Homo sapiens: one gene and its partner. The protein of the gene in region 1 purifies or fractionates together with the protein of each later gene. This does not show direct contact. Each region holds a gene or a part of one and is shown in the gene's direction. Other genes may lie near its edges.

Evidence for each region.
Region 2: the proteins of GRM1 (region 1) and ADORA1 purify together in Homo sapiens (affinity purification with western blotting, with the first as the bait; one study listed by BioGRID). This does not show direct contact.

The regions. Positions count from the first base shown.
Region 1 is NC_000006.12:146,161,512-146,165,335, forward strand, and holds part of GRM1 (metabotropic glutamate receptor 1 isoform alpha precursor), read left to right. Parts: intron 1-3,824. UniProt on the Homo sapiens protein: G-protein coupled receptor for glutamate. Ligand binding causes a conformation change that triggers signaling via guanine nucleotide-binding proteins (G proteins) and modulates the activity of down-stream effectors.
Region 2 is NC_000001.11:203,158,608-203,162,431, forward strand, and holds part of ADORA1 (adenosine receptor A1), read left to right. Parts: intron 1-3,824. UniProt on the Homo sapiens protein: Receptor for adenosine. The activity of this receptor is mediated by G proteins which inhibit adenylyl cyclase.

The DNA.
Region 1 (3,824 bases):
TCAGCTACATGTGATGTCTACCTCTTTTATTCCTCTTACCTGCCCCACCTCTACTGGATTCCACATATCCGAGGGAGCTATTGTCTCAATGAACACCTGAGCTTCTGAGGACACTGCTTTCTGTGCTAATAGTTACGGTCACTGATGCATGGAATCATTGAGATGACAAAGCTATACCATACTCTTTGCCAAGTGAAGGAAAGTGTCTCTCTGTTCTTCTGGGCTACTTTCCACGAGTGTCTATCAAAATGGTGTTGGCGTTTAATCTCGAATCTTAGAGAATTTTAATGAAAGCAGCCTTTAAAATTTTTTGGCTCACAATTTTCTCTCCCTTCCATGACATTCAGATATGAGTTCATAAGGAGCTGAGCTGGGGACAGAGCCAAGTAGTGAGACGATGCCATCCTTAGAAGTAGCCTTCCCTTCAGGTGGCTGATTCCCTCTCTTTATCGGGGATGGATTCTATCCTAAATGCTGCTCTGTCACTCATGTCAATGGACATGTGGGCTTGGTTCCCTCATGTCAGCAGACATGTCCAGAATAGCTACAGTTTAACCTCAAGCTACAACTTCTAGCTACATTAGTAATGCTGTCAAATATATCTCCCTCCCTTTCTAAGGGATTTTATCTACCAAATGTTGAAGTTTTTTGAGATCAGAAGCCATTGTTTGGTTTCTTTCGTAACACACGGTATGATTCTGGCTACTGCCAGAGTCACAAGAAGGGCATTGTGTAGGTGGTCATGAACTTCTTTTCATATAGTAAATCATGGTGTAGATAGCAGCAGGAGAGATTTGGTTAAAAAAAAATTAGGACTTTTTAAATGAAGACCTACATGCCCTCGTCTCCATGTCTGTTACTTTCTCTCACACTTCACATGCAATGTGTCTGGAACTCGTCTTGACACTACCATCAAAACATATTCAGATGTGGACAACTTGTCACCACTTCCTCTGCTATCATCCTGGTCCAAGCCACGATCATTTTCCCTTGGCTTATTGTGATAACCTCAGAATCGGACCTCTTGGCCATCTAGTCTTAACATAGAAGGCAAAGTGATCTTCTAAGAAATTAAGTCAAGTAGTGTCACTCATCACCTCACATGCCTAATGCCTTAAAATGACCCCCTATTTATTTCATAACAAAGTCATTACAAAGGCCTTCAAAGCTCCATATTTGACCACTTGGAATGAGCTGCTGAGAATGGAATAATGAACTATACTGATAGAAAAATGGACTTTTAAAAAAGGAAGTTCTCATAGAGAATAAAAATATTATATATTGAAAAAATGTGGTGGTAATGAAAAAACAAAACAAAACAAAACAAAACGTGGACTAAGAGTTCTAGCTATGCCATGAAGCAATTATATGATCTTATTTACTTAGTAGCTTTTTGTCTTGGAGCCTATTTTTTTCTATTAAAATAAAATATTTGGCTCCACATCATCTTTAAACATTTTTCCAGTCCTAGAATTTATAATATATTAAGACAATATGACTAATCTAAGATCAGTAGGGATGTATTTATAGACTTATCTAATATTATTCATTAATTTGGGCTGATCAATTTCTTCACCAGCCACTTCGTTAAAACCAGAATTCATAGAATAAGCTGGTCAGTATTAGGATAAATCTGTTGTTATGAAATATAGCCAGCAGACCCAGGGGAGAATCAAACCTTTGACTTTGAATAAATTGGCATAGTATTCTTACCAAGCAAATTAACTAATCACAATCAAGTTAATCATTGTGCAAAAGAATCATTTCTTCTTGTCTCTATGAAAGCTTTATTTAAGATGCTTCTCAGAATTATGCTCACTATAATAATAATTGTAATAATGATTGTGATGCTGATGATGTACCTGCGTCTGATAATACCTGTTTAGGACTTACTATATATAAGCACTGTTCTAAGAACTTTGCACATAACTCATTTAATTGTCACAACAATGTGATAAGATAGGTACTAATATTATTCCCCTTTCAATGTACGGAGTACAGTAACTTGTCAAAAAGTGCTGCAGTGCCAGTGCTGGGATTTGAAGTTAGGGACTGCAACATCAGAATCTGTGCTGTTAATTAGTAAGTTTGTGGGGTAATGGAAAAACAAAACAAAACATGAGATAAGAGTTCTAGATTTACCATGATTGTTTTGTTTAAGAGATATTGGCATTAATCTTAGTTTCCTTTTAACTTGCTCTCTCTTTCAGAGATTTATTTCACGGTTTAGAGTCACCTTCTTTGGGAAAATCAGCTAAAGTATCTCCCATGAGAAAATTATTTTACATTTCTAGTTATTCTTTATTTCTTTGCATTCTTTTATTTCATGCTTAGTTTTAAATATTTCCTATGATAATTCATTAACGGATAACTCATTTAACCTCTTTTCCAGCTCATTTCTTTATCTTAACATGGGACTTTACAATGTCATTCTCTTTGCACACCAGGCTTTATCTATAGAACTATATTTATGTAGAAGTCAACTTGGAATGAGTGCTATTTCTCTAAAATTCTAAGTTATAATTATTAAAATTCTAATAGTTAACTGATGGATCTGTTCTAATTCTTAAATTTTTTTTTATCTGAAGAAAGTAAAACTGAGAATAATTTATGTGTATGAGCACAAAAAATAGCTACCATTTATTGAGGGTTTGGTAGGTACTAGGCTATTAATATATGTTGTCTCTAGTTCCAAAAACAGCCCTGAAAGGTTGACTTGAAAAGCAGAGAAGTTCAATAATTACTCCAAATTCCTAAGTTTAATAAGTGGTGGAGTCAATATTCAAACTTACTACTGAACCATATTATCATATACATATATAGGTATTGAATTGTAACCTCCTCAACTGTAGGAACCAAGTTTTATACAGTTGTTTATTTTCCTTCATGCCTAGCACAGTGTTTTGGTATGATAACTTTTTAATAACTACATCAAAAAGCTTGATAGCTAGTAGAGAGAGCATGTAGCCTCATTATGTGACCCCTGATTTCCCTTTGATAGTCTAGAATCAGTAAATTTTACCTAGTTTGGTAAGGGTTGATGCTCTTCAATCAGCCTGTATCTGAACAATTCATCTGTAAAATTGGAACAACAACCCATTTAGGTTGTCTTATTTGTCTAATCACAAAATGCCTGCTTGCCTGGTGAGTCATCACTGGGTCTCACTAGTAGGTCCCTTGGCGGTACCTTAGCTCCACTAAAGACACACTATTCTTTCAGGGTGAGTGAGAGCCTCCTGACTTTAGTCCTTTGCCTAGTGTTGGCATTATCCTGAGCCTCCACCCTGGTTTCCTCATCTTGGAAAGCCTTTACTGTAAGTTCACATTCTGCCTTGTTAGGAGTCTTTGACTAGACATACTAGGTGTACCATATTTATTTATATATTTGCTAGCCCTTTTTACTGGATTCTGACTACATCTTTTTTTTTTTACAGTTCTTGCATTTCAATTGCTTGTCCCTTACTACTGTGTGCTGTTTTATCTATTGCTTCTCGCAACTCTGTGATCTTCTCACTCATTAGGCCAACTTTCTATCACTCCTCACTGCAGAGAAACACCACCCCCAGCCCTTTAGCTAAAACTTGATCCAAGAAAATTTTATTCTCCTGCTTTTTTAGTTGAAACACAACAAACACATCAAACACACGTGTAAAAAATGGTTGAAATGGAGCAATTGCTTTATTTGGAAAGAAGACTACAGTTTCATTTAAAAGCAAATGAAATACTTGGTTTTTACTGTGTACCTTTTGGGGTCTTTTTCTTTCAGAACACACATTTGGGAAAGTGACCTCTATATCCTTGAAACATAAGATTATATACCACGG
Region 2 (3,824 bases), on another chromosome or scaffold:
CTGCTTCCACATTTTCAGGTATTTGTTAGAGCAACAACCCCACTTCTGGTACCAATCTTCTGTCTTAGTCCATTTTGTGCTGCTATAACAGAATGCCTGAAACTGGGTAATTTATAAAGAAAAGAAGTTTACTCAGCTCACATTTCTGGAAGCTGAGAAGTCCAAGATTGAGGGTCTGCATCTGACAAGGGCCTTTTTTTCTGGCTCATCCTATGGCTGAAGGGTGGAAGGACAAAGAGCACACTCCCTAGAGAGAGAAAAGAAGGTGGCCAAACTCATCTTTTATAAAGACTCCACTCCTGTGATAATGAAGCCACTTCTGCAATTAATGGCATTAATCCATTCAAGAGGGCAGAGCTCTCAGGATCTAATTACCTCTTAAAGTCCCACCTTTCAACATTGTTGCATTGGGGATTAAGTTTCCAACACATGAGCTTTGGGGGACACATTCAAACCATAGCAACATCCAAACTCAGCAGCAGGTCCTTTTGGCCCTGTTCCTAAATACATCTCAAAGCCATATGCTTCTCCTCAATTCCCATGCCGCCAGCTACAGCATCCCACCCTCATCTGCCTGGATGGCTAAAATAGCCTCCTGCTGGTTTTCTTGCCTTCCATCATTCCCTGCTGCAACACATTCTCCACACAGCAGCCTGAGCTATCTTTTAAAAACAGCAATTCGATTATATTATTCCTTTGCTTAAAATGACTTCCCCTCGTACTTAGGATAAACCCCAGAACACTTGCTGCAGCCCTCTCAGCCCTAGGTCTCTTCTCTGACTGAGCCGGCCTCTCTCGGGCCTTCACCCCTGAGGCTCCTTCACACTAGCCCTCTCTTGCCACTCTTGCCTCAGCACCTCTCCCCGATGGTGCCTTCTGCCTAGAAGGCTCTGTCCCAGATCTTTCCCTGGCTGGCTCGTTGGTGGTCCTTTGGCTCTCGGCTCATTTTCTCATCCTCAGAGAGGCTGCCCTGCCCACTCACTCTCTCCTGGGGTATCCTCTTATTTCGCTTGGTAGGTCTTTTCACTCTCTAAAATGATCTGGTTTATTTGTTTGCATATCTATTGCCTGTTTCTCTGTCTGCAGAATGATATTTTCATGAGTCTGTTCTCTTCTATATTCCTGAACCCTAACACCTAGAACCTGGCACCTGATAGGTGCTCAATGAATACCCCTTTAATAAATGAAAGGGTGAGTCTCAACTGCCTGATTGCCCCCAGCAAGAACAAGACAGCAACTAAATACCTAGGCAGCACATGCATGTGAACAGGTCATTCTGATGGCTCAGAAAGAGCTCAGACTTTGCAGGAGGAGTGAGGCTCCCAGGCAAAGCACAATGGCATCCTCACAACTACTTAGTCCAGGGAGATTTGCCTGGAGCAGGAGAGGCTTGCCTTCTGGGCCCTAGCCATGGCTCCTTTCTCCTGCTCCAAGCTTCCATCCCCCAATCCTCACGTGTTCTCCATCTCCCAGAGTGGCAGAGCTGGGTCCAATATGGGCTTTGCACTTGGACATACTGGAGTCTTAGAAATTCTTTTCCTGCTTTTTCCTGGCAGAGTGGCCTTGGACATGTTTTCTAATCTCTCCAAGTCTCAGTTACTGCAATTAGGAATTGAGAATAATGACACAGGTTGAGTATCCCTTATCCAAAATGTGTGGGACCAGAAGTGTTTCCAATTTTGGATTTTTTCAGATTTTGGAATATTTGCATTATACCCGCTGGTTGAGCATCCCTAATCTGGAAATCTGAAATGCTCAAATGAACATTTTTCTTTGAGCGTCTTGTTGGCATTCAAGTAGTGTTGAATTTTGGAGCATTTGGGCTTTTGGATTTTCACATTAGGGATGCTCAACCTGTAGTATCTAAGTGATAGGGTTGCGCTGAAGTATCAATAAAACCATGTCTATAAAGTCAGTGCCTAGGGCTGGGCGCAGTGGTGCACGCCTGTAATCCCAGCACTTTGGGAGGCCAAAGCAGGAGGATCACTTGAGCCCTGGAGTTTGAGATCAGCCTGGTCAACATAGTGAGACCCCCATCTCTACAAAAACACTTAAAAATAGCTGGGCATGGTGGCACACACTTGTCCCAGCTACTCAGGAGGCTGAGGTGGAAGGATCTCTTGAGCCCAGGAGTTCGAGGTCACAGTTAACTGTGATTGTGCCACTGCACTCCAGCCTAGGAGACAGAGTGAGAGCCTATCTCTTAAATAAATAAATAAATAGTCAGTGCCCAGCACATAGAAATAAATGTTAGCGCTTACCAGCATTTTTATTGTTGTTATTATTGATCAGATAACTATTATTTTCAAGCTCCTTCCTCACTTAGCCCCCAGAATCTCCCACCCCTCCTATGGCAGCCCTGCCAGGGTGTCCAGGGAAGAACCAATGGCTTTCTCTGCCCTGCCCTATTTGGACACAGGATTTGCAGACTTCATTCCCTCATTTCCACCTCTAAACCATACTGACACTCTTGCAGCAGCTATGATATGAAATCCTTTTCTGTTCAGCCACCGGCTCTTGCCAACACTGAGAGGTTCAATGGGAACCCTCTTCCATTTCTCTCCTCAAGTGATCCCTTTCCCTCTCAGGGTCTCTGTAGCCCATTGCTCCGGGGACTCAGTCTTTTCATGTTATCATCATCAATGAGAAGTTCCGACTAATAAACTAATTCATACTATGGAGTTCATGTTATTTCAGCTTTTAAAAATAACACACAGGTGGGCGTGGTGGCTCATACCTGTAATTCCAGAACTTCAGGAGGTCGAAGTGGGAGAATTGCTTGAGCACAGGTGCTCGAGACCAGCCTGGACAACACAGGGGGGCCCCTGTCTCAATAAACTAAATAAATAAATAGCCCACAGAGAAGGCAACTCTTAACCCAAAGGAACGTCTCATTCCTTGTGGGATTTTATGCACTTTGAAGGAGATTCTGGAGGTGGGGCTCTCCCTGGTTCCCTCAGGGCTATTTTTTTTTTTTTTTTGAGACAGATTTTCGCTCTTGTTGCCTAGGCTGGTGTGCAATGGCGCGATCTTGGCTCACCACAACCTCCGCCTCCTGGGTTCAAGCAATTCTCCTACCTCAGCCTCCCAAGTAGCTGGGATTACAAGCATGCACCACCACGCCTGACTAATTTTGTATTTTTTTTTAGTAGAGATGGGGTTTCACCATGTTGGCCAGGCTGGTCTTGAACTCCCGACCTCAGGTGATCCACCCGCCTCGGCCTGCCAAAGTGCCAGGATTACAGGCGTAAGCCACCGCGCCCGGCCCCCTCAGGGCTATCTTTAAGGTACTGTCTGCCCTGCTGGCCTGTGGACGGGGCCCCTCTTGGTGTTCTCCCGTCTCTGTTCTGTTGCTCTCCCATTTGTGCCTGCCTGAGCTGCACACTCCTGAGAGCAGCATCTCCCTGCTTAGCTCCCAGCACAGCCCTCGGGGATGCTGTGGACTTGGGAGGGGCATTCCCAAGAGTCAGAGGCACCTTCCACACACCCTTACCCCATGCGTGCCCCAGGACTTGCAGCCTCTGTTTCCTTTCCCACGTGTAAGGATAGGTGAGCTTCTCTCCTGGCCTTGGGAGGCAGCCCTTCCTGTGAGAGCCTGCCCCACCTCAGCCAAGGTCTTGGGTCCAGCCCTTTCCCACCAGGGAGAAAATAGCAAGAAAAACAGATGAGAGCTGATACCCTAAGCTGCAGGGTCTGCTGGGACTGGGTCCTGGAGGAGCCCCAGGAAAGCTTTAACCCCGGGGGCTCTGGGTGGTCAGAAGGGTGAGGGGTGAGGAGAGAAGAGGGGAGGGACCCACTTCTGTAGCTAGAAGTCTCCTCCCTCT